Linked DNA regions of Homo sapiens. The protein of the gene in region 2 binds, or shares a complex with, the protein of the main gene of each other region. Each region holds a gene or a part of one and is shown on either strand. Other genes may lie near its edges. The genes, in order: FGF2, FGFR1, FGF23 and PLCG2. A codon is read from its position in the direction of its gene.

What was found.
Region 1: the proteins of FGFR1 (region 2) and FGF2 are in contact, whole or in part, in a crystal structure (PDB 1CVS), measured with the Homo sapiens proteins. Residues at the interface, in NP_075598.2 of Homo sapiens: Glu162, Lys163, Leu165, His166, Ala167, Val168, Pro169, Ala170, Asp246, Val248, Arg250, Ser251, Pro252, Val279, Ser281, Asp282, Pro283, Gln284, Pro285, His286, Ile287, Ala314, Gly315, Val316, Thr319, Asp320, Glu324, Gly344, Asn345, Ser346; in NP_001997.5 of Homo sapiens: His158, Phe159, Lys160, Lys163, Tyr166, Gly170, Phe173, Arg186, Lys188, Leu197, Gln198, Ala199, Glu200, Glu201, Arg202, Gly203, Val205, Ser206, Tyr215, Val230, Glu238, Leu240, Asn243, Asn244, Tyr245, Asn246, Leu282, Pro283, Met284.
Region 3: the proteins of FGFR1 (region 2) and FGF23 are in contact, whole or in part, in a cryo-EM structure (PDB 7YSH), measured with the Homo sapiens proteins. Residues at the interface, in NP_075598.2 of Homo sapiens: Glu159, Lys160, Glu162, Lys163, Lys164, Leu165, His166, Ala167, Val168, Pro169, Lys172, Gln244, Asp246, Val248, Glu249, Arg250, Ser251, Pro252, Val279, Tyr280, Ser281, Asp282, Pro283, Gln284, Pro285, His286, Ile287, Ala314, Gly315, Val316; in NP_065689.1 of Homo sapiens: Leu31 (codon at 5,161), Leu32 (codon at 5,164), Gly33 (codon at 5,167), Ser34 (codon at 5,170), Trp36 (codon at 5,176), Gly37 (codon at 5,179), Tyr43 (codon at 5,197), Ala45 (codon at 5,203), Thr46 (codon at 5,206), Ala47 (codon at 5,209), Arg48 (codon at 5,212), Asn49 (codon at 5,215), Ser50 (codon at 5,218), His52 (codon at 5,224), His66 (codon at 5,266), Ile75, Arg76, Ser77, Glu78, Asp79, Ala80, Gly81, Val83, Val84, Tyr93, Phe108, His117, Gln118, Thr119, Asn122.
Region 4: the proteins of FGFR1 (region 2) and PLCG2 are in contact, whole or in part, in a cryo-EM structure (PDB 8JQI), measured with the Homo sapiens proteins. Residues at the interface, in NP_075598.2 of Homo sapiens: Lys504, Asn506, His541, Lys542, Lys598, Ser602, Tyr605, Gln606, Arg609, Glu612, Tyr613, Ser616, Lys617, Lys748, Asp755, Arg756, Val758, Ser762, Gln764, Glu765, Tyr766, Leu767, Asp768, Leu769; in NP_001412678.1 of Homo sapiens: Phe528, Arg540, Thr568, Phe569, Pro570, Asn571, Phe577, His585, Cys586, Arg587, Arg589, Ser590, Thr591, Met592, Gly595, Leu601, Thr602, Asn604, Leu622, Arg623, Cys624, Ala625, Glu626, Phe627, Glu738.

The regions. Positions count from the first base shown.
Region 1 is NC_000004.12:122,822,642-122,830,384, reverse strand, and holds the start of FGF2 (fibroblast growth factor 2 isoform 18 kDa), read right to left. Parts: upstream 3,211-7,743; coding exon 3,033-3,210; intron 1-3,032. UniProt on the Homo sapiens protein: Acts as a ligand for FGFR1, FGFR2, FGFR3 and FGFR4. Also acts as an integrin ligand which is required for FGF2 signaling. Binds to integrin ITGAV:ITGB3.
Region 2 is NC_000008.11:38,465,147-38,472,668, forward strand, and holds the start of FGFR1 (fibroblast growth factor receptor 1 isoform 1 precursor), read right to left. Parts: upstream 3,490-7,522; 5' UTR 2,835-3,489; intron 2,579-2,834; exon of another isoform or gene 2,526-2,578; intron 1-2,525. UniProt on the Homo sapiens protein: Tyrosine-protein kinase that acts as a cell-surface receptor for fibroblast growth factors and plays an essential role in the regulation of embryonic development, cell proliferation, differentiation and migration.
Region 3 is NC_000012.12:4,376,200-4,384,652, reverse strand, and holds the start of FGF23 (fibroblast growth factor 23 precursor), read left to right. Parts: upstream 1-4,940; 5' UTR 4,941-5,070; coding exon 5,071-5,281; intron 5,282-8,453. UniProt on the Homo sapiens protein: Regulator of phosphate homeostasis. Inhibits renal tubular phosphate transport by reducing SLC34A1 levels. Up-regulates EGR1 expression in the presence of KL. Acts directly on the parathyroid to decrease PTH secretion. Regulator of vitamin-D metabolism.
Region 4 is NC_000016.10:81,957,014-81,963,595, reverse strand, and holds the end of PLCG2 (1-phosphatidylinositol 4,5-bisphosphate phosphodiesterase gamma-2), read right to left. Parts: intron 5,641-6,582; coding exon 5,598-5,640; 3' UTR 911-5,597; downstream 1-910. UniProt on the Homo sapiens protein: The production of the second messenger molecules diacylglycerol (DAG) and inositol 1,4,5-trisphosphate (IP3) is mediated by activated phosphatidylinositol-specific phospholipase C enzymes. It is a crucial enzyme in transmembrane signaling.

The DNA.
Region 1 (7,743 bases), on a different chromosome or scaffold from region 2:
TGTTGTGTCATCTTCTCCTACCTCTTCTTTTAGAAAATTTTCCTCTCTTTCCTACCTCACAGCTTCCCACTCTGCCTCCTCTTCCCCTGCACCTCTCCAGGACCCCATCATTTATATCACAGTCTTCAAAGCATCCCTCCCCAAACTCCAGTCCTTCTGGCCAGCTTTTGGGGAAGAAATTGCACTCACAATTTAATCCATACTAAATGTTAAAATCTGATAATGGTTGAACTTGGCCTTTCAAAAGTTACCTGCAGTTTAGAAAACATGTAGGCACAAAGTGTCATGCCAAAGGAAAAAAAATTCCAGTGACAGATGTTCAGGTCAGTTGGACAAAACAGTCTGAGGAATGAGACCATAGATTTTTCAACTTTTCAAACAGGTCTAGAAATCTGAGCCATAATGTAGTAGGAAACTGTGGCTACTATTAACTCTTCTCCATGTTTTCTGGTCAGTTTTATTTGTTTTGGGGGGTCTCCTCATGGTTTGGTCAACTATCAGTAAACATCCAATATGTGAGAAAATAATATACTGTACTTAAATTTATGTCCAGGTTGGGCTACATAGAAATAGATGAAATTTGTCATTTTTAGATTTGTATTCTTGTCAGTCTATTGCCTGGTACAGGTATCCTTTAAAAAAAGAGTAGTCTCTTTGGGGACTTGGGAAGAAAGGGTGGGAAGTTGGGGAGGGACAGGACTACAAACTGGATTCAGTGTATACTGCTTGGGTGATGGGTGCAACAAAATTTCACAAATCACCACTAAAGAACTTACTCATGTAACCAACTACCACCTGGTCCCTAAAACCCTATAGAAATAAAAAATTTTAAAAAAATTGGTAGTCTCCACAAGTCTGGATGAGTTATTCTACATTTCCCTTTTAATGTCTTGTCCTTAGCTAGTTATAAAGTTAGCAGAGTTCTCAACCTGAGTACTAGTGACATTTGGGGTCAAAAATGTTTTTGTTGAGGGTATTATAATGTGTATTGTAGGATGTTCAGCAGCATCCCCGGCCTCTACCTGCCAGATGCCAGTAGCACCCTTCCAGGTTACAGCAACCAAAAATGTCTCCAGGCATTGTCAAATGTCCCCTGGGAGGCAAAATCGTCCCCATTTGAGAACCACAGAGTTAAAGTAAGATTACAAAAATGAAAACCCAACTCACAGTTAGGAAGAAAAAGTTAACGGTTGTTTTTACAACGGTGGTAATGTGGTATGCAATTCAAAATTATGTCCACTGGCTAACCTCTACATAGTTTTATTCTAAGGCGAATCGGGTATCAAAATCTTCAAAGAAAAAATGATTCAGCAACTAATAGAGTCTGAAAAAAAAAGAGTATTAGGGGAAGCCCCAAATATTAATTTAATTTAAAGGGAAATTCTTCTGTCTTCTGGTCATAATACATGCTTTTTAATAAATAATTTGTGATACTAGAAAGAACAAAACCAATTGGGACACACAGCACCTTGCCCTTGTCAGCTGAGATGGCGTAGCAGACAACTGCAGAACAAACTTCAATCACAAAGATAATTTTTTGAAATAGATGAGTTCAAGTTACCAGAATAGAGAACTAGCACTAACCCATCTAATAGGTTACAAGCATCTTTTCAGTTTTACGGGATTAAGTGATTGATAAAATTTTTAAATTATGGCAAGCCTGAAAAAAATTAAATACTTGCCTCTCTTGCAGGTTGCTATTTTGGAAGCAATAAAGACTCAGCTCATATGAAAGTGTATTGCCCATTCTTCTGCCAATTCACGTTTGGTTGTAGAATTTTCTTCTCTTCCAGCCCCCCTCCACCTCCCCTCATGACATCCCATTAGCATCCCAAGACAAAGGCAGAACTACAGGGGAGTGGCGCTGGGACCCCTGTGGGTCTTTTCTCAGGCAATGAGAGAATCAGATTCTCCACCTGGAACCCATAAAGGAAGGAACGCCATAACACACAGCTTTTAAAACACATGTTTACATACACTTACAGGAGGACAGGTTACAATATATTCTAGTCCTCTTTCTCTCACTTCAAATTCCATCAGTGTTGTAAATCGGCTCATCTTATGCCCCTTTCTTTCTCTTTCCTCTAGACCAGTGGCTCTCAAAGTGTGATGTGATCAGCATCCCCGGGGAACATGTTAGAAATGCAAATCTTCAGCCCCCACTCCAGACTTAGGGAATCCCCTAAAGTCCAAGCACTCCTTATTTAGGCCAGTGTTCTTTCTAGAACCACAAACATTGTTTCTTACAGAAAGCAAAACTGCAATTCTCATTTCATCCTCAAGCCTGCTGCAAGGTAGTAATATATTAGCCCCACGTGAGCGATGAGGAAACCGGCTCTGGGGTTAAGCGTCGGCTCAAGGTCTCAAAGCTAGTCACTGCAGGTGGAAGATTAAAGTGTTTGCACTTCTTTTCACTACTGAAACAAAGCTATGGCACTTTATTAACAACATCTGGATTTTTTGCTGGTTGGCTGGTTGGTTTTTGTTTTTGCTCTTTCAGCTTTCGTCAATTCGGAAAAATATAAAACAGAGTGGGTGAGAGTAGTGTGCCATATGCCTCGGGTCGTCCCGAGTCGGAATTTAAGGGCAGGACTCTAGAAAGGTGTTTTTCCAGTAAAGACCGTTTCGTTCTGCTGCGGTCCTTCCTGTCTTTGTCCCCGGGACAGCACGCAGCAGATAGAAGCGGCCAGAGCTGCATGGCGGGGCCGCGGGCATCCCCGACGCGACAGGTTGTCCGCGGGAAGACAGCCAGTCCGCGAGGCCCCGGCGCGCCGCGGCTCCGGGCCGGGGGTACTGGTTTACAGGGCAAATTGGCACACCCCAAAGCCCAGGGGACACCCGGGCCTACGCCGCAGCCCGGAAAGGAGGGGGTGAGTGGTGAACCCGAAACCGCCGAGGGCCGCGCGGCCAGAAACCACACGGAGCGCTAGGGTCGCAGTGAAGATCCGGGAGGAGGGTGCAGGCTGGAGGGGAGAGAGCGGGCGAGAACCCACGAAATGGAAATGAGGCGGAGAGAGCGGGTCGGCACTCACTGTGAGGGTCGCTCTTCTCCCGGACCCCGTCAACTCGGCCGTCGGGGTGGATGCGCAGGAAGAAGCCCCCGTTTTTGCAGTACAGCCGCTTGGGGTCCTTGAAGTGGCCGGGCGGGAAGGCGCCGCTGCCGCCATCCTCGGGCAAGGCGGGCAGCGTGGTGATGCTCCCGGCTGCCATGGTCCCTGCGGGGCCCGGCCGGGATCCCCGAGCCGCTGGAGCCGCGCGGGGAGCCGCCGTCCCCCGGCCCCGGCCCCGGCCTCCGACCCGCTCCGGGGCACGGCCCCGGCCCCGGCCCCCCAGCCTCCCGCCCGGCAGCGCGCGGCCGCGCCCGCGGTCCCCCAGCCTCGAGCCGCTCGGCCGCTCTTCTGTCCGCCGGCCCCTGGTGCGCGGCGAGCCGGCGGCCCGGGACCTGGGGTTCACGGATGGGTGTCTCCGCGGACGCCGCCTGGGGAGAGCCGCCTCCCAAGCTGCAGCGCCCGGGATCCCGTTGCAACCGCGGGCACCGCGTCCGCTAATCTGGCACCCGCCGGGCCGCGGCGTCACATCTTCTACATCTCCACCCCCCACACCCACCAGCCTCCCGCGCCCCCAGTTCTCCTCCCTCCTGCGCGCCGCCCCCTACTCGCTCGGGTTTTCTGGGGCCGGCCTCTGAGTTCGGCGGTTCGGCCACAACACGCAAGCGCGCGACATCAGTCCGGCGGGGAGCCCGGCCTCAGTCGGGGGCGGGGGAGAGGCGAGGGGCGGGGGGCGCGCGTCGGAGGCCGCGGCAGGGCTTTGGCATTCCCTGGGCTCCACCGCCCCTTATCCCCCAAAAGTCACCCCCGCCCAACCCCCGCACCACCCAAACCACGTTTAGGCTTTCTCCACACTGCGGGGCTTTTGCTGCGCAACCAGCCGTGACTCAACTTTTAAAAGTTTAAACTCAACTTTCTCCCCCATTTTTTCCCCGCTAGCGTTTCAAAACGGAGAAGCCGTTTCCACCCCAAAGTAGAGAAGTTGCAATCCAAGGAAGAGTCTGTGTCAGAGCAGGCTTTGAAAATCTCTAAATCACCAAAAGACGAGGGGTACAAGTGGGGCATAAACTTTAAAATTAAAGGACAGAGGCTGAAGTCGTCTACCAACAAAAGGAGAGAAAGAGGCCAGAGAAGGGGAGCAGATTGGGTTGCTAAAACGAAAAGGTTTCCTTTACTGACCTATCTTGAATTAGACGACGCAGAAAGATGAGGATGGGGATAAGGATAAATCCTTATCGCGATCGAAGCGCATTAATGTCTTAACTCGGACCTGGCATTTGCCCTAGCTAAATTGTTATGCATTTCTTGGAGAGAGAGTTATTTTCTGTAAATCCCAAATGTAAAATTGAAGTTAATTGCATTTTGGTAATTTTCAGTAGGATATAGCAGGTGCCACAGATGACTAGGAAAATATCTATTCAGAAAACTTGCATGTATTGAGTACCTACTGTGTGCAACACATAATGTTGAGTGTGTGGGAGATGCCAAATCTGATGCCAGCGTCTCACACACTGAGGGAGATAAGATGGGTAGCATGAGTAACACAAATAGCAGTAGAAAGTAGGCCATAGAAGAGTAAGACTAAGTGCTGTGACATTTCAGACATCGGATAACTCAGCGTGGGGAGGCAGGAGATTTGGGGAAGCTTCTAGAAGGAGTTGCAAGTATGGACGTGCCTCCTTGTAGAAACATTAGGTTTCAAAAGGCCATGCATAAGTGCATTTGTTCTTAAGTCTCCAAGAAGGCTTTAACTCCAGATGCATTTCTAGAATGTTACATACAGGAGAATGAGTAAATTCTTTGAAGCTTTAAAACCAGGCATACTGTTTTTATTTTTATTATTTATTTATTTTTTTTAGACAGAGTTTTGCTCTTGTTGCCCAGGCTGGAGATCAATGGCACGATCTCGGCTCACCGCAACCTCCACCTCCTGGGTTCAAGCGATTCTCCTACTTCAGCCTACCGAATAGCTGGGATTACAGGCATGCGCCACCACCACGCAGGGCTAATTTTTTGTATTTTTAGTAGAGACGGGGTTTCTCCATGTTGGTCAGGCTGGTCTCGAACTCCCAACCTCAGGTGATCTGCCCGCCTCAGCCTCCCATAGTACTGGGATTACAGGCGTGAGCCACCGCGCCAGGCCCAAAACCAGGCATATTCTTCTTTCTTCTTGCAGTTGGTATATGTTCTATAGAGGAGGAAAAAAAAAATTTCCCCATTCATTACTAGGTTTATGGCTGAAGCCCCTGTAACAAAAGACACATTAACAAGAGAAAAACATACTAACTTATTTATGTGAGTTTTACACAAAACAGGAGACTTCAGAAATTAAGACCCAAAGTTAAGAGGGAAGCCTGTGTATTTTTAAGGCTAGGATTGATAAAGAAGTGGAAGTCATGGAGAAGTATGATTGGACAAATCTGTGATCTAATGGTAATAAACTGGGGGGACTTACTTAGCAAGGCCTATTTGCTCAGATTCTTTTCCCTGTCCGTGTGTCTTCAGAGATAAGGATGTCTGTTTCCTCCAGGTATAGGGAAGGCACCTCTGGAATGAAGGTCTTATGGTCTGCCTCAGAAGAGAAGATCTGGGGAAAGTGAAAGTAACCCTCTTGCTTCTGCTCTTTTCTTAAGTGCCAAGGTACCATTATTTTTGGGTAGCATGTCCTGAACGCCATCAGTTCTCTAACATCTCTCTCCAAAATGGATTTGTTTCATCTTCATTGAAGATCCGTCTGTTGAGACAAAATCACTCCCTCCAGATGATCTCTGTAGGTGCTACTGTGGTGCTGAGTAGTCCCTAGAATGATTGAACTCTCACTTGAACTCTGTGTCACAGAAACCTGAGGATTCCAGGAGCACGGGGATAAAATCTAAGTCATGATATTTTTTAACAATGGCATCCAGAAACCTGGGGAGCAGCTACACGCAGTAAAATAACTTGTATTCCCTACAATTCAAACAAATAATCTAATTTTCAAATGGGAAAAGATTTGAACAGACACTTCTCCAAAGAAAATATACAAATAGCCAATAAACACATGACAAGGGGCTCAACATCATTAGACATTAGAGAAATACAAATCAAAACAACAATGAGATACTACTTTACACCCACTAGGATAGCTATAATTAAGAAATAACAACAACAAAAAATAATAAGTGTTGAAGATGTGGTAAAAGTGGAACCCTCAAACATTGCTGGTGGAAAGGTAAAATGATGTAGTCAATATAAAAACAGTCTGACAGTTAACTCTAAAATTAAACAGAGTCACCAGACAACCCAGCAATTCCACTCCTAGGTATGTAGCCAAGAGAATTGGAAACATATATTCACATGAAAACATGTACATAAATGTTCATAGCAGCTTTATTCATAATAACCAAAATGTGGAAACAAGCCAGATGTCCATCAAATGATGAATGGATAAATCAATTGTGGTATATCCATACAATGAAATGTTATTTGGCAATAAACAGAAATGAATTACTGATACGTGCTACAACATGGATGAAGCTTGGAAACATTATGCTCAGTGGAAAAAGACAGAAAAGGCCAGGTGTTATATGATTCCATTTATATGAGATGCCTAGGGTAGGCAAATCCATAGAAACAGAAAGCAGCTTAGTGGTTGCCAGGGCTGAAGGAGAGGGAAATGGGCAGTGACTGCTAATGAGTATGGGATTTCCTTTGGGACCTATAAAAGAGTTCCGGAATTAGATAGTGGTGATGGTTATTACACAACTTTGTGAATATACTGAAAACCATTGAATTGAACACTTTAAAATGGTGAATTTCATGATACATGAATTGTATCTTCAAAAAAAGAGAAAGAAAAATAATAGATGTCAAAATGAAAATGAGTTTTTTTCTCCCATAAAGTCGGGAGGAAAAAGATATCATCCAGTGCTATTAAGGATGAGGTGAACCAAAGACCTTATCGACAGTCAGAGGGAGGCTAAATTATACAGCATTTTGGGAAAACTATTTTAAAAGGTACATCACAGTTTTAATTTTTGATTTTTTTTCTTTTTTGAGACAGGGTCTCGCTCTGTCAACCCAAGCTGGTGTGCATTGGCAGAATCGTGGGTCACTGTAACCTCGACCTCCTGGGCTCAGGTGGTCCTCCTACCTCAGCCTCCCAGGTTTGCTGGGACTACAGGCGCATGCCACCATGCCTGGCTAATCTTTTGTATATTTTATAGAGACAGGTTTCACCATGTTGCCCAGGTTGGTCTCAAACTCCTGGGGTCATGCGATCTGCCAGTCTCAGCATGCCAAAGTGCTGGGATTACAGGCATGTGTCACCATGACTGGCCCAATTTTTGAAATTTAAATAACCATTTGAGGCAACAGTTTTGATGTAAGAAATTTATTCTCAAGAAACGATTATAGATGTACACAAGATTTATTAACCTGGATGTTCATTATATCCTTGATCATAATGAGGAAAAATAAGGGATAATCTAGGTGATTAATGTGAATAAATTACATTATATTCATTCGAAGTAGTACGTTCCATGTAGCCAAATAAACAGTTTTGTGGGAGAATATATAATAACATGAAAAAAATTCTTGCAATATTGTATATTGTTAATTGAAAGAAGTAGGTTACAAAACTGTATAATAGTATCTCATTTATTTAATATGCTTTCATACACATAATAGAATGAGAAACACTAAAGTATTTGTAGTG
Region 2 (7,522 bases):
ACGCTTCTCCATTTCTTCCTGAGCCTTTGCTTCCCTTGCTATCAAAGGGCCACCTAATGGAACTGTCTAACACCCTCCATGGCCAGAGGCCAAGGAAAAGAAGCACCCTAAGATTGTTCAAGTGGTGCCCACTCTGGCCTGAATTCCCATTGGGAAAAATACCTCGAAAATGAGCATTTCTGCAGGCATGTTTGGAAAAGCAGGCAGTGAAGTACGCAGTCCAAGTGGCTCTCAATCTGGATGAACCTCATTAAAAAGCTGACACTCAGCTATGACTAAGAGTAAATGCAACAGATATTTCAAGCAGCTCGTCACTGATGCAGTTCATAACCCTCCCAGCTGGAGTCAGGCCCCAGCAGCCTCCCGGTCCCCAAACACCCTGCACTCGGAGGGTCGGGGCAGCCCCGGAGCTTCTCCTAACCCACTGGGGGTAGGATATGTAAACAAGTCATTAGGGAGGCAGGCCATCGGCAAAGACGGCCGGCAATAGCAGAGGCTGCTGAACCTCGGTCACCGAGAGGAAGGTGGATGACCCGGGCGTGGGGGTGATTACCCAGACCAAGGCGCGTCCCACGGGGCCCTGCTACTTCGCTTTTAAACAAGCCTCAGGGAGGAAACCGGGAGCCCGGGCCAAGGGAGGAAAATGGCCACTTTCTGCTAAACAGTCTCAAGGCTAGATAGTATTCCAAAAAAAGCGCTGGTCCGGAGGTGCAAAGGGTAGGGCACATCTGCGGAGGAAACAGTCACCTTAATTACCACGTCTAGAGAAAGTGCGATTTCATTACAGCCTCCAAAACTACCGCCCAAAGAAGGAAACCAGAGAAGTGTTTTCAATTTGAAAGAGGCTGGAAAGAAGCGGGTAAGACACCGACTCTCCCCACCCTCCCGGCAACTTTGGACCACAAGGCGCTTTCCTGCCTCAAAGACTATTACCAAACACAACTCGAAAATCCAACCCCGCTTTCAAACCTGTAGCCGTTATTTAAACGGTAAAACACCCCACTTTAGTTTCCGGGGGATGCGGCCCAAATCAGTCCTTAAAAACACACAGAGAGCGCCTCTGGCAGCAGCCGCCCACGCCCCCGGCCCTGCGCACCGGGCTTGCTCCGGGAGGGGCGCGTGACGCCACCGCGGGGCAGCCGAGAGGGGACCGCGGGCTCCGGGCAGGGCAGGCGCTCCCGCAGCTCCAGCTATAACACAAGGGAGAGAAAGCAACGCTTTGGTTCCAGAAACTTCCATCGTCAAGGCCAGTTCTGGCCAGACGCACAGCCAAAGAGCCCCCCTAGTCTAGCGGATGAACCGTTCGCGAGTGGCACCCCCTAAAACCTTGGCCCCATCTCCCAAGATGCCTCTTTACTGCGCAATCCAGAAAGCACCCGGACCGCCGCCACCCACCAGCGGCGGCGAATAACTTGGTGAGATCTTAAATAACTCGGGATCCAAGGGAACTTTCTTTTCTCCCCCGAATCTCAACGCCGCATCTCCAAGTCTCCAGAAATGTTAAGGAGGGAGGTGGTCAAGACAGGCTGAAGAATCTGAGTTTTAATTTGGGGGAGGGGGAGGGGAGGAAGAGGGAAGTTAATAATGCGGCTGCGGTGTACCCGTGTGGGGTGAAACGGAACCAGATGCGGCTGCTACATCTGGAAATTGGGGGTGGGGGAGTGCTGGGGGAGAAAGGCACCGTGGTAATGTTTTTCAAAAGGGTTGATAGCTTCTGGGCTCAGAACAAGAAACAGGCTTCACACCCCACCCCCCCCCCACCACCACCAAAAAAGTGTCTGGCTGCCTCATAGGGGGTGTGTGTTCTATATGAACCCCCATCTACAAGGTCCATAAAATTCCTCCGCAAACATGGGTCGTAGCCTCACTTTTCTCCCAACCCCAAACATAACGGTAGGGGAAGCGAGGTGCAGAGGGGTCTGGGCCAGAGAAGCATACGCATCGCTGCCGAGTGAACCACACCGGACAAAAACCCTCATCCCTTCCCCCACCTCTAGGAACCAGATTGGGACCGAACGGTCCTTCCGCCCCCATCCCACACCTCGGCTTAACGACCGTGGGTTGTCCTCCCGTTCCCCAAACTTCCGACCCTTTCAGAGACCGTCCAAGTCATAAGATCACCCCTTCTGGAAAGGGGAGTCGTTTTTCGCTCTCAGCTCAAGCAGATTCAGCCATTTGGTGACGACACCTCCTTAAAACCTATTCCAAGAGAAGCTAACCTAGCCCTCCACGTCCTCCGCAGTTCATCTCCCACCCCATCCGACCCCAACCCGCACCCCAGGCTTTCCCGGGGGTGGAAAAGGACTTAGGAATGCCCCGGATTTTTAGCGTTGAGCCCAAAGCTACCTGCTGAATTGGGGGTGAATCCCCAAAAGGGGACCAAAAAGACATGGAGTGGAATGCAACACACACACATAACACACACAACGCATCCCACCTCGCCGCCCACTCCCGCCCTCCTCCCCAGTCCAGGAAACCGCGGGCCTCGCCGCCTTCGCCCCGGGCCTGTCCCTCCCGGGACTCACTGAGGAGCCGCCGCCGCCTCGCCAGCTCCCGAGCGCGAGTTGGAGGAAAAGTTGGGCGGCGGGAAGAGCGGCGGGACGAGCGCAGGGAGGGGGCGCAGGAGACGCGGACGGAGGGAAGGGAGGGGAGACCCAAGGGGCGCGGATCGCCCGGGAGGGAGCCAGGAGGTGAAAGGGGCGGGCGGCGAGCGGAGGGAGGCGCCGGCCCCGGCTGGGCTGCGGCGGGCAAAGCGCGCAGCCGGGAGGCTCCGGCGCCGGGGGCCGCTCGGGACGCCAAGCCCGCCCCAGATCCGGGGGCGCCGCGGCTCTTACCTCGCTCGGCGTGGAGGTTCCGCCTCGGGAGAGTCCGCCGTGGCTTGTGCGAGCGGGCGTGTGCCCGCGTCCCCGGCTCCGGCCCGCCGCCCCCGGGCTCTGTTCGGGTCCTGGCGGGGTCGCAAGAGCTCCGCGGCCGGCGCTCGACTCCCGGCGGCGCTCGGTGCTCGGCGCCTCCAGCCCGGGCGGGAACAATGGAGCCGGAGCTGGTGCCCCGGAGGCGGGGCGGGGGGAGGGCTCCCGTCCGCCACCCGGGGTCTCCAGACCTTGTGCCCCCCTCCTCCAGAACGCAGCGGCGGCGCCTCACTTTCCTTGCAGACCGGGCTCCATCGCCCTGCGGAGGCCCCGGCGCCGCGGCGTGCCCGACTGCAGCACGGGTACCGTGCGCCCTGCGGGGCGCCCCGAGCTCGGACCGGAGAAAAGTCCTTGGGTTCCGCGGCTTTTCAAGCAGCGGCGCGCTCGCGGCCGGGGAAGGCGAGGTCGCCGCAATGCGCTACGAGGGGTCTCGGTCCCGTCCGGACGTGGCCGCCCAGCTCCCGGCACACCCGGGTTCCTCCGCGCGCTGCGGCTGCACCGGCGTCCCGGCTCCCGCTAGCTGCCGCCCGCCGCCGAGGACGCCGCGCCTGTGGCCGCAAGAGCGCTCCGAGCGCTATGCGCCGGCGGGGCGCGAGGGCTCGCTCTCTCACTCCCACCCGCGCTGGTCCCTCCTCCGCCTCCGCCCCCTGCAGCTGCCTGCTGGGCCTTGTAGTTCCCCAGCCGCGGCCCCAAAGGACGGGGAGCGGGCCGAGCTGTCCGGCGCTCTGCCCTTCTCTTCCTACAGCCTGGTCTCCTTTGGCGTTTGCGCCCCTGCATCTGAGCACGTCCCAGAGGGCGCCGGAATGTCAGGCCCTAGACATAGCAGCGGTTTGGGGGCTAGGGGGCAGGTGAAGAGACGCCGCAGCCTTGAGGTTGTACCTGGTAGCGTGGGCTTTGGAGTCTGTGCGCCTTGGGGAAATGATTTTCGCGCTCTAAATCTCTGTTTTCCCATCTGTAAATGGGGGATAATAGTGCTTTTCACATAGAGTTGAGGCGTCAACGAGGGCCTAGCGCATAGTTAACACTTAGTAAATACAAGCCGGTTTTATTATAAGGTCAGCCCCTCCTCAAACCCTTCCCTTGGATTTCAGCTTTCCCCAGCCACATAATTTAGGTTTTGTGGTCCACCGGGAACTGGACCCTGTAAATTCTACAGCGATGCTGTTGGCTTCCAGAAGTCTCCAGCCTGCAGTGAATGTCTAGGAAGCAAAGAGTAAGCAGTGGGAGTTGAGGGGAGACGTGTGGTTGGTTTGGAAATTAATCACAGCCCACTCAGAACACCCTCCAGTACTGTGGAACACAGGAAAGTGGCTAAAATGCTTCCCCCTGAGTCTTCCCGCGAAGTGGTATAATGTAGTGGTTCCCTAATCCAGATGGACACGGGTCCTAGGGAACGTCTGAAAAATACAAGTTCATGGGCCTGCTCAGACATGAGGAATCACGCTGTCCCAGGAAGGAGCCAAGAGCCTTTATTTTTTCCAAGGCTCCTTGGGGCGTGTGATGTGAGCCCAGGCTGAGGCCACCATTGGGGTGGGAAGTAGGCAGCACTTGGTCTGAAGGATTCCTCCATTCTGTCCATCATTTATGAAGTTTGATGTAGGACAAATCATGCATCTGATAAAATCAAAACGGGGTATCTGTTGATACTCCTTCACAAGATGGTCATAAGAATCAAATAAAATAATAGCTCTCAGTGGACCAAAAATATTACACAAATGGAAGTCACTATGAAAGGTAGTGGCAGGGCCTGTTCCCTTACCATCACCCACCTCAACCCCGAAACTTGTAGAAGTTTGAATACTGAATGAGATCCCCCCACCCAACTCCTCACCCAACCCACCCACGCCTCCCTGGCTAATTTAAGAAAAGAGTTGGCCGGGTGCGGTGGCTTATGCCTGTAATCCCAGCACTTTGGGAGGCCGAGGCGGGTGGATCACGAGGTCGGGAGATCGAGACTATCCTTGCCAACAAGGTGAAACCCCGTCTCTACTAAAATACAAAAAAATTAGCCAGGCATGGTGGCGCTTGCCTGTAATCCCAGCTACTGGGGAGGCTGCGGCAGAGGAATCGCTTGAACCCGGGAGGCGGAGGTTGCAGTGAGCCGAGATTGTGCCACTGCACTCCAGCCTGGCAACAGAGCAAGACTCCGTCTCAAAAAAAAAAAGAAAAGAAAAGAAAAAATGGTCCTCGCGCTATTTTTCTAATCCACCAGTAGGTGACAGACTAGTGGCCAACACAGTGTTATTCACATAGTAGACACTCATGAAATCCCTTGACTGGCCAAAGAGCAAATATTCAATAAGTATTTGTTGAACAAATGAGTAAATAAACAACTAAATTACAGCTCACGCCTGTAATCCCAGCACTTTGGGTGGCCGAAGCGGGAGGATCACTTGAAGCCAGAAGTTCAAGACCAGCCTGGGAAACAAAGTGAGCCCTTGTCTCTACAAAATATTTTTAAAAATTAGCTGGAGGTGGAGGCTGAAGAAGGAGGATGGCTTGAGCCCAGGAGTTTGAGGCTGCAGTGAGCTATGATCCAGCCACTACACTCCAGCCTGGGCGACAGAGTAAGACCCTGTCTCAAAACAAAATAATACAAAACAAAAAATGAGAAACAAGAACTCATATCTTTGTTGAATAAATGAACTTCAGCCACTGTTTATAGGGTTTTCCCCTAAGAGCCACCATTTAACCTTTCAGCTCCTGGTCAAGCTTGGTTTATACTCCTATGTAAGCTGCCCACCCATTAGGCCTCCTGCATTTTAATTACTACACATCACACGCTTGTAAGAAGGCCATACTCACACCCTACCCCCAAGAGGCCTTCCCTGCCCATCCCAGCTTTGTCAGTCCCTGGACCCCCTGCTCACTTGCTGACTATCCACTGAGTTGATACCGTGCTTTGTTAGTGGTTTTCCTTACTCTGCTTTCTTTCTAACTGGTTTCTAAACTGCTTTAGGGCAAGGATCTTATCTAGGTGTCTGACCAATTCTACACAGGAGGTTTTCCATGTATATTTATTGTTCATGGACTTGCTAAGCATAACCAACCTGGGTTACCAGAGGAGGAAACACAATTTGAGGGAATATGATTGGGAAGACAAGCCATGAAAAAAATCCAGCATTTAATGTTAACACCCAGCTACTATTTTTCTACTTTGCTCCGTAATTCTTCTCAAAAAAGGGTTTTTTTTGTTTTCTTTTTTTTTTTTTTTCCTGAGATGGAGTCTTGCTCTTTTTGCCCAGGCTGGAGTGCAATGGCACGATCTCAGCTCACTCAGCTCACCTCTGCCTTCTGGGCTCAAGCGATTCTCCTGCCTCAGCCTCCCGAGTAGCTGGGATTACAGACACCTGCCACCATGCCCAGCTAATTTTTGTATTTTTAGTAGAGACAGGGTTTCACCATGTTGGCCAGGCTGGTCTCGAACTCCTGACCTCAGGTAATCTGCCCACCTTGGCCTCCCAAAGTGCTGGGATTACAGGCGTGAGCCACCATTCCTGGCCCAAAACAAGGGGTTTTAAATCAAGCCCCTTTTTCTTATGATTTAGAACCATTGTAGGAGTATCTTGAACCCCAAATAAAAGGCTAAATAATGCGTTCTTGATTTAAACAGAAAGATAATGATCTAAATGCTTGTTTGGGGTTGAGGGACATGGGCCTGCTGCTGAAAAATCCTCTATAGATTTATCAAGAAGCCAAAATGAAAGCAAGTGGCCAACTTGCCAGGGTCCCTCCTCCACTTCTCAGGGAAAGAGCTGATGGCAGCTGAACAGAGAAGGTGAGAAACTCAGCAAAGGCATGGGCTGTCCACACACTGCAGACAGGTTTCTGAATAATTGAGAGTTGGCTGCTTTTATCCTTCCAGCCCACCTCGCTCCTTTTCTGTCCCACTCCTCTACTCGCCCTCTTTCTGAAATGTAGCCCTCCCATTTCTGGAAGGGCCCCAGGCCAGTGGAGGGAGAGTGTCCCTAGGGCAGCCCTGAGCTGCTCCAGGCAACAGGGGTCAGACAGCAGCTCTGCCTGTCTCTGTTCTGCCCGAGGCCTCCTGGCACCTTGCCTCCCATACAGAAATGTAACCTTCCCTCTGAGATAACAAAGAGCTGGGAGGGTCAGGGAGGATTTGTCGGCCCTTCGCCCTGCCAGCTACATGTCTAAGGGGAGACAAAGGCCCTCATGCTGGAGGGCCTGATAACTGGTTGGGGGCCTGTTGCCTCCCACATCTGTGGGAGGAGGAGACCACTGCTGAATGAAACGAAGGGAAACGGAGCTCTCCCCAAAGCCCGGCCAGCTCTCTTTGTTTGGGAACACTGTAGGAAATCCCTTCCCTGTTCCTCCAGCTACTTGTGTCCTCAGAGTTTTCCCTGGCAGACGGGAGCTCCTCTTCCCCTCTCCCCACATTCCTTCTGCCCCTGCTCTATCTGGGTTCTGTTATTTTAGGGCTCAGCTGTGCCTACCAGGAATGATCACCCCACTACCCTGGGTCGATACTGCAGAATTAACAATTCTTTGTTATGGAACAAGTCAGGTAAAGTAAGCACCATTGACATGGGGCAAGGTTGCAGAACTTCCAGCCCAGGCTTCAAGAGTCCCCAGGATGTGGTGAGAGCTGGCAG
Region 3 (8,453 bases), on a different chromosome or scaffold from region 2:
CACATTTTTGCTGTCAAGATGACACTGGGATGACATTTTCAGATGAGATACAGGAATGGCACCTCTCCAGAGAACTTCAAGAAGCCAAAAAAAAAAAATTTTTGTTCTAGATGGCTTAGATATCCATCTCCCTGAACGCTGGAGGTCTGGACGACATGTAATGCTCTGAGAAAGCAAGAGGGCAGGGACACCGTTACTGAAATGGTGGAGACAGACTCAGGAGGAGTGAAGGGACAGGGAGCAGAGGCCTGCCAGGTCCTTCCAGGATCTCAAAAAGAAAAGAAGGCTGCAAGCCACCGTGAGATCACCTTCTCTCCTATCTCCCAGCTTTTTTTTTTACCTTGATTCCTCTGACATTTTTTCATCATAGCTAAGGACAATGAAGTTGATGTTATTGTTTGAAAATTATTGCCCAGTCTTTACTTTGAGTGAACATGATCTGGGTGAGAATCTTCTTCAGTACCTTCTCAGAGCAGATGCTGATAAAAAGAAGTCAGGAGATGAAGGAAAGTAATGAACTTGCAGGAATACTTTTTTTTTTTTTTTTGACAGGGTCTTATTCTGTCACCCAGGATGGAGTGCAGTGGTGCAATCTCAGCTCACTGCAACCTCTGCCTCCCAGGTTCGAGCAATTCTCCTGCCTCAGCCTCTCGAGCAGCACGCTCGAGAGGCACGCACTCATGCTCGGCTAATTTTTGTATTTTTGTAGAGACAGGGTTTCACCATGTTGCCCAGGCTGATCTCAAATTCCTGACCTCAGGTGATCTGCCCGCCTCAGCCTCCCAAAGTGCTGGGATTACAGGCATGAGCCACTGCGCCCAGCCGGAATACAGATTCTTATAGGCCCTTATCTATACTAAGAGCCTTGATTCTATGAGCGTAAATGCAGGGACTAGACTTGATGCTTCCACACAGCTCCCGGGGCAAATTCTCTTAATGCCAGAGAAGTGGGTTCCAAACCAGGCTGGAGACAACAGGTTTCCCTGCCTGCCATGGGACCAGCCTATCTGCTGCATTCAGGTAGCTACCTGGGAACCAAGGACAGTGACGTCCAAACAGCACAAACCCAGGGCCTCCTCCCTGGGCTTCCTGTTCACAGCTGGTATCTATCTGTGTTTCTCTTTGGGCTCCTAAGGTCACACTGGTTCCCAGACCCTTGGACCTGAACTGTGACGGAGGAGTGCCCTCTAGGTGCAAAGGACAGGAACCGACATGTCCTGGCCTCTCCCTTCTCTTACCCACTGAAGCTTCAGAGGAGACCATGCACTGGACTCAAGGACAGGGTACTTGTCAGCACGAGGTACTGATTTAGCATTCAGTACTAAATTCCCTAGAAAGGCCCATTTACATCTTGACCTGCAGTTAGGATGGACATCCTAGAAGGGAACGGAAAGTTGAGCCTGCCACTGAAGAGGGCCTTAGTCTCTGTGTACTATTTCCAGTGCTTGATGTGTGGTTGGCGCTCAAAGCCTGTTTATTGATAAGTACTTTAGTATCAGCCACATCTGGTGTGGAGAATTAGAATCTCCCAGGTGGCTTTGAATAAAGTACAAATAACTGACTTTTGCCCCTGCAGATTCAGTAGGTCTAAGATTAGTCCTGGGGCAATTATGGCTTTAAAGCTCCACAGGTAATTCCAGTGAGCAGCCAGATTTGGAAGCCACTGGTAGGGAGTTCAGCCTGGAGCTGGACATTCTGCTGTCTCCGTGTTCCAATGGGCAAATCTTCATCTCCGCTCTCAGTGTTTCCCTATCTCAAATGGGGAGAATTAATCTGAGATTCTTGCGCCTTCCTTTACTCTCTCTAAGTGGGAAATGCTGCTTCTCCTCCCATCCTCCTTAAAAATAAGTCTACTCCTCTGGGCTGGACTCTGCCATTAGAGCCAGATGCTAAGCACACAGGGCTTCTTCTTGGAGGGGAGGCTTTGGACCTGGGTAAGCTGGCACAGGGCTCTCTTTCCTAATAAGACAAGCTGAGGTGGCCACGGAGGAGCCCCTTCCCCAGTCGCTCCAGGAGCTAGGGGAATGACCGAATGGCTGTGGACTTATCCCAAGACACCTGTGCTCCCTCTCCATCATGCTTGGCAGGTGCTGGGGAAAACCCTTCTCTGTGTATCCTACAAAGCTCCCTCAGTTCTCTCCTTCCCTCAAAGCCCTCCTTGACCACAGCATCTACCCACCATGACCTTTTTTTTTTTTTTTTTTGGTGACAGATCCTCGCCCTGTCATCCAGGCTGGAGTGCAGTGGTGCAATCTCAACTCACTGCAATCTCCACCTCCCAGTTCAAGTGATTCTCCTGCCTCAGCCTCCCAGGTAGCTGAGATTACACAATACGCCCAGCTAATTTTTTTGTATTTTTAATAGAGACAGGGTTTCTACTAAACGGGGTTTAGACAGGGTTTCACCGTGTTGGCCAGGCTGGTCTCGAACTCCTGACCTCAAGTGATCTGCCCACCTCGGCCCCCCAAAGTGCTGGGATTACAGGCATGAACCACCACGCCTGGTCAACATTTCTTTTTTGTGAAGGAGCTTGGTAAAAAAGTGCAGGCAGCAAAGCACTCCTCCATGATTCTCTCGGAAACCCAGGTCTTTACCCGGGGTGAATCTCTAGGGTACATAGTGCTTGTCTCCCCAGGGTTGTTTGGAAGATGTATGACATTAAATGTTTATGTATAAAGCAGGCTTCTTTAGTAATGGCCACAGAATGGTTTATAAATATAGTACCACATCTTCACTAATTTGCTCCTAGTAATGAAGCTCCTCCCACACAGTGCCTTGTATTGAACGAAGATGTTCCCTGCTCAGTTACACTGGGAGCCCCTAGAGGAGTTAGTCCTGCTTTGTAGTCCTACACCCTCCCTTTCATCTCTTACATGGAGAAGGTTCTCAATGGCTGCTGATTGCCTTATAATTACTTCCCATCTCTTTACCTTTCACAACCAGAATAAGAAATGCAGGGCAAATGTTCCTAAGTGATTTGCATCTCAATTCTGAAAGCTAGCTATTTCTTCAATTAGCTAAGACGTAGCATTATATTTATAATCCATTCTGTGGCTATTAGTAAAGAAGACTGTTTTACATATAAACATTTCATGTCATACTTCTTCCACTCAACCCTGGGGAGACAAGCACCATGTGTCCTAGAGATTCATCCTGGGTAAAAGCCTGGGTTTTTAGAGAATAACAGAGGACTGCTTTGCCACCTGCACTTTTTTACCAAGCTCCTGGCTCTCATGGCTTTAGCTCTAACATGTTGTATGGGTTTGGACACCTTGAAAAGTGCTTAGGAGGTCTTGGGGCCAGACCTGGATTCAAATCCAACCTCTTCCACATGTTACCTTTCTATCTCTAGGCAAGTTACTTAAACTGTGTGCATAGATCAGTTTCCTGATCTATATAAAGAAAATAACAGCATCTCCTCAAAGAGTTATTCTGAAGATGAAATGGGTTACTACAAGTAAAGCACTTAGAGCAGTAAGTGGAACAGTAAGCTCTCCATGAGCGTTAGTTCTTGCTGTGATTCTTTGGAGAAGCAGCCTAGGGAAGGAGAAGACCTTGTCCTGGCTCTACCATTTATTTGCTTTGTGCCTTTGGACATGGAAACACTAAGATTTCCATTTCTTCATGTAAAGTATTAAAATCTTGATAATGCATGGAGTGCCTATCTCACAGAGTGGCAGTGAGGTTCAAATAAGCTAATAGATGTGAAAATGCTTTGTAAACTATAAAAAAAAACTGTACAAATGTAGGGTAACAAATGCCATCTCTTTCTGTCTATACCTGTAAGCTTGCACTCATTTTGTATTATAGTTACTTATTTTTATCTGCCTCCTGCATTAGATTTGAGCTCCTCAAGATAGGAATCACATCTTGCTGTCTCCTATATCAACCTGTACATGAGTCTAGCTTGATGCCTGTACATGGCATATACTCAGTACAGGGAAACTGGAAGAATAGCAAACTCCTTGTGTGTTTTTTCGGGTGTGTGTTCCAGTAGCTTGCTCCCCTTTAGACTGTATGTGCCAGGACTATTCCACCCGACATCAGGTGTAGCTTCCCAGAGGGCTCACTGTGAACAGCATCTGCAGGCAGGCATCCAACACCAAGCTGAGCACTCATGTACAGACACTAAATGTGGGGACACCCTGTCCTGAGGCTCGGATCCCCAGTGCTCAGCCAGCAGCTGTTCCAATCCCCATGAGGTCTCTGAATGAGTCTCCTTACTACTGGAGAGACTACTAGTTTAGTTGCCCTCGATAGTCCAAACTAGGGAAATTGAGAAATTGAACCTTGGCATATTCAGTGAAGTCCAGACTAAGGAAGCTGAGAAACTGAACCTTGGCATGTTCACTGACCTCAAGGCCTTACTTCTTTTTCTTCCATTTCAAAATCTTCCCAAAATGGCAACTTTGGCTTTTGTGCCCCTGCTCCTAGCTCCCATCTTTCATGAAGTGGGTGTTCTTAGAGGATGCCATCTGCCTGATGGTGTCATGTATCTCTATATCCTGCAAGCTACCCACCAAATCCTGCTCACAGATTAAGCACTGGATACATACTTGCTGATTGGAATTTAAAGAAAACCAAAATAAGTAAACTCGACAGGAGATTAATTGCCTAGGAGTCGGTTGACTGCTTGACTGAAGCTGGATTTTTTTTGGGAACCGCTGGCTGCCTTCACATTTCCTGATGGAAGTGGGACAGGTCAACAGACAGCCCAGAGTGGCAGATAACTTTTGCCCACACGTCATTCATTTTTTGGAGCGTTGGCTTGAAATTGAGGGGTGTGTGTGTCTGGAACCGACGTGCCTTCCGTGCGCCTCCGGGGTCTTTGCACTTTCTTTCAATGGGCTGATTACAACACAGAGGATGTGGACAGTGGAGTTTTTCCTGTTTGATGTCACACTGCTACCCTTTAAAAGTCTGACGGCAAAAAGGAGGGAATCCAGTCTAGGATCCTCACACCAGCTACTTGCAAGGGAGAAGGAAAAGGCCAGTAAGGCCTGGGCCAGGAGAGTCCCGACAGGAGTGTCAGGTTTCAATCTCAGCACCAGCCACTCAGAGCAGGGCACGATGTTGGGGGCCCGCCTCAGGCTCTGGGTCTGTGCCTTGTGCAGCGTCTGCAGCATGAGCGTCCTCAGAGCCTATCCCAATGCCTCCCCACTGCTCGGCTCCAGCTGGGGTGGCCTGATCCACCTGTACACAGCCACAGCCAGGAACAGCTACCACCTGCAGATCCACAAGAATGGCCATGTGGATGGCGCACCCCATCAGACCATCTACAGTGAGTAGGGCTTCAGGCTGGGAAGAAGGGGAGCACCCTTGTTGTCCATCTACAGGAGGCTTGGGGAGGTTGGGGACTAGACTGGAGGGCTAATCCAACCCTCCTAGCTTTCTGCCCAGGAACCACTTATTGTCTTTGTGTGTGTGTGTGTTTGTGTGTGTGTGTGTGTGCGTGTGTATTTAAAACTTAGGGGAAGATTCTGTCACTCTCCTAATTAGCATTTGCTGGTTTTTCTCAATATGAATAATTTTTATTTCAACTAAAACCCTTCCCACAGTAGGAGCCATGTTCCCTTTGCCCCGTCAAAAGATTGAAAAAATGTACAGAAAGAAAGGCAAGGAGTCTAAGAGAAAAAGAAGCCAGGCAGATCAACAGACACTAAGTTTCAGCTCATGGACTTTGGACTGGGTTAACTAGGGAGGTTGTAAAGATTCCTGGGTCATACCCAGATTGTTATAGATAAATCTGGGGGCTCTTTCCAACTCTGGCCTTATAAAAATTCTTGGAAAAATGTATTAAAGACAGACTGTCCATGTATGTTGTCTTGGTGAGAATGGCCAAGTATACAACCCATCCACCCATTCATTTGTCCATGCATCCATCCATCCATCCATCCATCCATCCATCCATCCATCCATCCATCCATCCAACAGGTTTAATGGGTGTTTCAGACACCCAGGTACCCAGGTACCCAGTATGAGTTGGTGATTCTTCTCTGTGGAACTGAAAGGTGTCCAGTCAGTAGCAAGTCAAGCTAGTTAGAAACTTATTGGCAACATGAGACAACTGGAATGTTTTTAAAGATCAGGTTTGTGGAGAATTGGATCACAATCCACAATAATCAATCCATTAGCAATGATTCAAATGAGGGTCCCTTTGTGTGCACCTATATAAGGGGTAATGTGGTGAAAGCAGGGATAGATATTGAAAAAGACTGGATCTTCTATTTTAAGAAAACGTGAGAAAACACCTCAAAGCATACAGAAAAATGCAAACTGATCCAATATAGCTCAAATTAAAGGAAAGAAAAATTAGTTAGACAATCTCTAACTAAAGAAAACATAGGAATTATGATTTGCCCTTTATTGTTGTAATAAATAAATTAATTATTTTTGCTGTGACCTTGCTGTGTGTGAGGCATTTATTCTTCTAGGCTCCAAAGGTCCTTAAACCTGGTTGCAAGATATACAACATGCAAAATTAAGTTGCAAGATATATAACATGCGAAATTGACAGTTTAACCTCTTCAAGTACTAAATGCATATTGACAGGAGATAAAAGGAGAGAGGAAAGTTCTCTCCGAATACCAAACAGGTTCCAGAACTCCAGAGAATATAGTAAGACTCAGGAGTCAACATCTTGGAAACCAAGTTTGAGTCTCATGGCAAAAATTTCAATTAAATCTGGATACACTTGATGCACCCGAAGTGTTGTTCATTTTATTCAATGGATATTTAATAGGATCTACCATGTGCCTGGCATTCTACCAAGCGCTGTGGCTGAAAACTAAGACACAACCCTTCAAGGACCTCATGGTCTGTCGTCCTACCTTGTCAGCCAGCTCACTACCAGACTTTCAGGAAATGCAATTTTGCATGTCTCATGGAGGGGACACCCTTACTCTAATTCAAGACTATATGTGGGCCAGGTGTGGTGGCTCACGCCTGTAATCCCAGCACTCTGGGAGGCCGAGGCAGGCAGATCACGAGGTCAGGAGATTGAGACCATCCTGGCTAACACAGTGAAACCCCATCTCTACTAAAAATACAAAAAATTAGCCAGGCGTGGTGGCAGGCGCCTGTAGTCCCAGCTACTTGGGAGGCTGAGGCAGGAGAATGGCGTGAACCCGGGAGGCAGAGCTTGCAGTGAGCCGAGATTGCGCCACTGCACTCCAGCCTGGGTGACAGAGCGAGACTCCATCTCAAAAAAAAAAAAAAAAAAAAAAAAAAGACTATATGTGATTTAAAATGCAGAATAGTAGATTATGGTAAATTATTTTGATTCTCTTAGATGGAAAGGGCTGCATCCAACTAGAGAATGTTTATACAACTTGTCTCGAATCCTGGAATCCCGTTGCTGAAAGGAACTCCTTAAAGACGTTTCTTCCTGAACAAGAATTAGGGTAGAACAGAACAGGCCGGCTACGGTGGGGAGTGAGTGTGAAGAGTCAACCTCCTGGGCTGGCAGTCTGAACTTAGACCTTTTCCTTGAAAGCCCACCTCGTATCAGGCCCCAAGGGATCACTGAGTGCTAGTTAGAGTGAATTAAAATGACTGAGAAGCAGCAAAATAAATTGAACTGACTTCAGATTTTTAAAAATAGAAATGTGATTTTGTTTCCTTAGACATAGGCACTAGCTAAACATTGCATCTTTAAAGAGTTAAACATGAATGCGGGGAGGGGAACTTCGGGTCAGGGTAGTGGGAGGGAGATCTACTTTTCCTAGTCTATGTAGATAACTTTTTGTACTGTTCAATGAGTTGTCATGTGTATTATGGGAAAAAAAAAGTGCAGGAAAAAATTACACACTACAATTAAAAGTTACCCAAAAGAGGCCAGATGCGGTGGCTCACGCGTATAATCTCAGCACTTTGGGAGGCCGAGGTGGGAGGATCACTTGAAGTCAGGGGTTCGAGACCAGTCTGGCCAACATGGGGAAACCCTGTCTCTACTAAAAATACAAAAATTAGTGGGGTGTGGTGCCTGCCTGTAGTCACAGCTACTTGGGAGGCTGAGGCAGAAGAATCGCTTGTACCCCAGAGGTGGAGCTTGCAGTGAGCTGAGATCGCACCACTGTGCTCCAGCCTGGGTGACAGAGTGAGACTCCGTCTCAAAAAAAAAACGTTACCCAAAAGAAAGAGGAAAGATTAATGCATGTAGATAAGAAGCACAACTAATTAAATGTCTGGTGAAGGATTTGTAATGACCTCATCAGTGACTGTTAAGCAATGTTTTTACACTGATGGAAACCTAAAATGTGAGGGGTATTTTTTCCCCTCCTAATTATCCATTTCTATTGAATTCTGGTTTATCTTATTACTTTGCTGTAAGAAATTCTTAAGAGTTGAGTGCACAACCCATCTTTGGGTCACTGGACTTGACAAAATGAAGTTATCTCCTGCCTACCAGATTCTTCAAGCTCCCTTAGGACTCACAAGCGCTGCTGCCAGGT
Region 4 (6,582 bases), on a different chromosome or scaffold from region 2:
GTAAGATAGGAGTCAGATTTCACATCCATCAGCGATGCTGAAATAAATTTAATAGATATAAAACTGGTAAAACCAGTGATCAGTATCCACAAGGGAATGATCAATGGAATCTCCACAGGACACAGTTTGCATTTCTACGGACAGGAATAATTTGCATTATTCGGACAATAAAACGTGGAGAAACCGTATAAAATCAGATAATCTGGATAGCGGATAACCTATACTGTATGTATATATATTGTTCTCTGCATTCTCCTTTAAACAAGCTGGAACATCTCACTGGTTCCTTTGTTAATTAATAAGATTTCTGACATATGTTCATTATATATCTTTATGAGAGTTATGGTTGTATCCATTTAAAAAGTGGTCATTTGGCAGTTCTAATTTCATCTTTGCTTTTTACTATTCCTTGCTCATCTTCTAATGCAGAGGTTTGTCATAGGCTATTATTAAATCTTTGGACCAGGGTAACTAATCCAACCACTGGGGGCTGGGGGTTGGGGGTCAGAGGTATGAGATACAACATGGCTTCCTGTGGACCAGGGATTGTTGGCAAGAAACGCAGTGATTGACAGTTCTAGGGAGCCTATCACTCAGCTGAGAAATACAGGGACTTACTATAAGGTCCTCGCTCCTTCCAACACTAAACATTCTTTCAAAACTGATAAATTGAAGAGCACTCAAGTATTAATCGTACAAACTTGAGTTTCAACACAGAGTGAGTTTTTGCTGAAGATAAACCTGTAACCCAAAGAAACGTGGGATAAATAGGATAGTAAAACACATTTCAAAAAATAACTGTAACTCTACCTATCTCATGACTAAATTATTGTATGTGTGTGTGTGTTTTATTTGGGAATATAAAAGGTGAATAGCAGTTTTTAAAAAAAGTTCTGGGCAGATTGCTATATTCATTCAGATGAAACTTTTATTTTTCAAAATGTGATACAGCTGTTTAATTTTCACATTAACAACAGCCAACATCTGTGTGACTCATTCACTTAATTCTCTATGTACACAAAGCACATACTATTTATATAAAAAATAAATTAAGCTTTAATAATGAAACACAAGTTTACAAATGCAGCTTCTTAAGGCCTAATGAAAAATAAGAAATGTGGAAATTTCTGAGAGGCAGGATCACTGGAATCTGGCTCTTCAAAAAGAAAATATTTTGAAAATTAAAAACCAGGGACAAATTATTGAGTATTTTTAAATGCCAATTTTCTAATTCTGTATAATTCCAAATCTAATTATTAACTTTTTGTTGGTTAGAAGATAGCTTTTACGGTTGGGTTCAAAAAGTTAAATGTCACACAGGTTGAAGGTTAAGCTATTTTCCTTTTAAAGTCAAAAGGGTTGAGGTCCTTTTTAGCCATCCTTTTTGCTTCCAAATACAATTCATCACTTAGTGGCCCTAGATCAGCAATCTTGAGAGCTTGTTTGGAGGTTCCAGCAGGGGAGCGCAGCTACTCGTATACCCTTGACCGAAGACCGGTCCTCCTCTATCGGGGTTGGTCGTCCTCTTCGACGGAGCGCGCAGCTTCGGGAGGGACGCACATGGAGCGGTGAGGTAGGAAGGGGACACCCACCTAGCCAGCCAGATCAGCCGAATCAACCCTGGCGATCAATGGGGTGACAGATGTCGCAGCCAGATCGCCCTCACATCCGATCAGCAATCTTAACATTTTATGCTCAGATACTCTTAAGTGAATTTTGAAAATCTCTATCTTCTTGCACATTGCTATATTGACATCTAAAATTTCTCATTATAAATAGCTGCAAAGTGCTGGCATACCGTAGACACTACATGTTTAAATAAAACTGTTGTATTACTTTTTAAATTTAGCCCAGGAGGTTCTTAATATAAGTTATTTGATAGATACTATGATCTTTTTAAAAATTTTATGAACAGGGCCATTTTTTTATGATCAGTCTTACCTGGAACAAGGCAATTTTTAGTAGCAAGGAATGCCCCACTTTTCCTTTTACTCCTTGAATTTGTATTTTCATACCACTTCTCCCTCAAAATTTTAGCCTAATAAATTTTTGATTTTTATGTTATTTAATTCTATCTCTGTACCAAAAGTATTATATAGTATCCTATAATCCTAAGGCTGTAAGCCTTTAAAATTTTCCTCTGGATTGAGCTGAATCAATAAACACATAGCCCAAATTTCACTAAATTATTAAACATAGTAAAACTTCTTTGGAAATGTATCACTTAATGAGATAAAGAGGGCTTTTCTCCACAATTATTTCATCTATGTAGATTGATAACATCTTAAGATTGAGCCAAAGTTCATCATCAATTCTATTTTCCGTTTTCAATTTCATTTATGGAGATGTTGATCCTTGTTCACACAGATACATCAATGGGAACGGAAGCTTTATGATAGCAGAATCACTGAATTCTTCCAACCCCTTTGTAGTTACATGCTAAGAGACTCAGAAATCTACAGGCTGTTCCTCCCACTTTGTTGAAAGCAAAAAATTTGGAACCACCAGAAAAACTTGGAAAATCCATTTGCAAAAAGATTTGTGCCCTGTTGATAAGTCTTTCACTTTCCAAATATCCACATTTTGAATTTTTACACCTTGGGACATGCTCTACAGTAAGACTAGAGGTGGAGACAGCCATATTTTCTTTTGTAAGGTGAGAAAAGGGCATTTTCTCAGGCAGATGAATCTTAGAGAAGAATATAACAGGAAGATGAGGCTCTGAACACTGCTCCCCTGAGAGTACTGGAGTCTGTGTATTCCTTGGAAAGCTCTGGTATACTCCCAGGGGTAAGGCTAGCTTAATCTAAAGGCCACTGGCCATGGCGACTTAAGTTTAGATTTTAACTAGGTCACAAAGCATACGAAGTATTAGAACATGTTGTCCGGCTGCCTTCTTAATAGAGCAGTAGGTCTTCAAATGTGTTCCACTATAGATAAGTCCCATGAGACACTTCTGGCAAAAAGATTCTGAGATCGAATTTGGAAAACAAGACCCTCTACACCTTTCACTCCTGCACATCTAGTCTCACAGTAGAAAAACTTTATTTAGTTTTTATAACCTAAGTTTCCCAAACTCACAAGGCCTAACCAGCCTCCCCACTTTATTTTTCCTTGTAATAACCAATATTCTAAATAACACACTTAGGAAAATGGTGAACAAAAACAGTGTAATACATATGCAGTGGTGGTTTTGATCTATCAGTGCTGCTTCCATCTTTCAGAATGTGCCTGTTACTAGTCTTCTTGGCCTGGATTGGCTGTGCTTTAACAGTCATGTAGGAAGCATGTCTCAGCTAGATACTGAAGTTATGTAGCATCACATAGACTCTGGGAAGAGCCATCATACCATGTGTGCCTTTCCTGAGAGAATCAGTCCCTAACACCACCAAGAACCAGATTAACGTGTTACTCTGTCAAGGACAGGAGGAAAGAACCGAAGAAAGTACTCTCTCATGGTGGATTCCGGTTGTAGCACCAGGAGAAGGAGACAGTTTTAGGCAGAGGGTTCTTCCCAGCACCATTTATGTCATAATCCCCTGACTTCTCTTTGGCCACGCATGGATTTTACACAGCAGCAGCTGGAGAGAGGCTTAGCTTCTGCTTCCTATGCCGCCATATGTCAGGTTCTTTGATATGGTAGCAAAAAACCCATTTGGGCAGAAAGGGGATGCAGGCCTTAGCACTGTGGCTTTAAAGTAGAATGAAGTGAGGAGCTGAAAGGAGGTAATGACAGCAACACCTGAGCTCTGCTGTGTGGAAGTCCTAACAGAGCTGAGAGGGGTTGGGGGAGATGCCAGGTGCAATAAATAGGTTCTGGTGGCTACCTGGCCAAAGGCTAATGGGGCCCTGGCTACAGAGTGCCTGCAGCACTCATCCCAGTGCCTTTCTCACCTAGCCTTTCTTGAAAGTTGCTTTGAACATCTGCCACTAAGAGGAATGTTCTTTCTTCAGTTGCTGACTGCCAAATAAAATAGCAGCTCCCAGTTGGAGGAGTAACTGGAGTGATAGCACCAGATAACAGCCCTTCCTTGGCCAGACTGCTGTTCCCTGTGTTCCTGGCTTCAAGCGAGGTAAATGGCTTTCTTTTAGGAGCTTGTGGATGGAGATGATTGATGAGACCCACAGCTTTTTGTTTAAACATCCACACCCCCAAATCTTGGCACTGTATTTGGCATGTGGAGGTGATCAGTAAGTTTTTGTAGAGTGAAGGGACCAGAAGGATCTTCTGGTCAGAGCCTGATTTGTTCTGCCCTGCTTTTCAGCAGTACATGCATACTAAGCCCAGCATTTCGGGTAACAAGAGGAGGGTCAGATGGGTTTCTAGGGGCCAGTTCCATCCACATCAAACATCAGGCTTACTGCTGGTTTGTTCTTCCCCACCACAGCCATCGTTTTTCACAGTTACACTCCTTTTCCCATCAGCTGTAAATTCACTCATTGAGAAGTTGTGACTCTACCAACCACCTCCCTTCCCAACCCAGCACTCTCCTCTCCTTTAAAAAGCCATATTACATTATTGGTATGTATTAACAACTTAAGATGCAGAGGTGTAAAGCCCTGGCCAGCCGCACATACTGTCATGAACTAGGTAGATCTGCCCCAAGGGAGATGGCTGCATTTGAAATTTTCTGTAACACCCTAATGCTTAGCCCATTAAAGCTCAGCTTGCTGCTCCAGAAGACTGGGTAACCCAGAGACATTTCGCCATCAACCTAACTTTTGTCTACCTCTTTCAAGCAGCAGTTGACCTCTTGCCTGTGGAGAGCTGTGGACCAAGGGCCATTCCAGCAGCCTCCCAGCCAGTTCAGTAGGGCCATGAGGGACTAGTGGGGCCAGAGCCTCCCAGCAGCTGGCAGAGCCAGGGGCAAGTGAGAACCTGCCCCTGCAGCACGGCTCTGGTCTCTCTGATGGGCTTTTTAAAACAAAGAGGCCCCAAGATTCCTACCCTCCATCCCAGTAACTCTAGTCACAAAACAAGCTGTCACCATTAATTAGAAATTGTCTTAATGAACAGATCCCATCACTCAGCCATTTTCTTGTGGACTGCAGCAGGCAGCCGGTGGTAGTTAAAGTACATTGAACTGAGCAGGCTGCCTGTGGGTAGGGCTTCTCTTTGGGCCCTTATGGAATCATTTGCCTTTGAGTTAAAATCCTTTTCAGAATCTCATGAATAGTTTCTTACATTTCCAGCTCATCCTCCATGGACATCAGTTACCTGGATCATTAGAGGTAGAATCTTCTTGGCCAGAAAAGAAATCCTGTTCACTGCACAGGTCGTGCAACAGAAGGCTTAATTGATCAAGGTTTTCATTGCTTTTATTCAATGAGGTTTGGAACATGAGAGGCCAAAAATGAGGAGCACATTTTGGGGAATCCTCTATAAAGAATATAAGTTAAGAAAGTTGTCCAAGATGAAAATAATAGGAAATTACCCCAACTCATGCCAGTTGGGTCTTAAGAAATGTCCTTGATGGCAGGCTTGAAGAAAAGATGTCACAGATTAGCGTCTTCCCAGAGTGTGAATAGGGCACGTTCTCCTACATGCAAACACACATGCGCACACACACAATACCCTTACACACATACCCCAGCTTCTATGAGTAAAACTTGCTGTTGCTGACTCTCTTCTCTCTTAACCTGAAATAAAACAGATTTCACCATCAGCAGTGGGCCATGAGAAATGGGCTGCGTGCTGAACTCTGTAACATTTCTCTTTCTGTACATTTGCCAGTCATTCATAGCTGGATGGTATAGGGCTGAGTGTCAGAGAGGCAGACTCCAAGTTCCTGGTAAGACGTTGAGACTCAGAGAGGTTAAATCTCCTCAATGGTAAAACAGAGTAAGAGCTACTCTGCAGGCTGACATGAAGATTCAATGAGAATAATGTGAGTAAGGGAGGCAGCACAGTTTCTCGTTGGTGGCTACTATTAGGATTTTTGTCTGGATGATTCTTTCTTAGAAGATTTAGACATATTATGAAACACTTGGCAACCCCGGCCGCCCCGCACCCCATTACATGCCTGTAGCACAACCACAAGCATCCCTGTTGGGGGATCTTGACCCAGTCTAGAGCCGCTGGACTAGCCCATTCTTGGAAACACAATAAGTACTCCTTAAAAGTCAGTGGTCATCATTTATTTTCGCTATTAAATTGAAGTGTCCTTCTAGAGGAAACAGTTCTACTTAGGGGAAGTGGCAAGCGCCTAAGGTATTACTGTAGGTTAATTTCTAGAACAAAGAGAACTAGAGTCAAGGGTGCCAAAGGATTTTTTGTTTGTTTGTTTGTTTGTTTGTTTGACAGAGTCTCCCTCTGGTGCCCAGGCTGGAGTGCAATGGTGTGATCTCGGCTCACTGCAACCTCTGCCTCCCAGGTTGAAATGATTCTCCTGCCTCAGCCTCCCAAGTAGCTGGGATTACAGGCGCCCACGACCATGCCCAGCTAATTTTTGTATTTTTAGTAGAGACAGGGTTTCTCCATGTTGGGCACGCTGGTCTTGAACTCCTGACCTCAGGTGATCCAACCTCCTCAGCCTCCCAAAGTGCTGGGATTACAGGCATGAGCCACCATGCCTGGCCTGT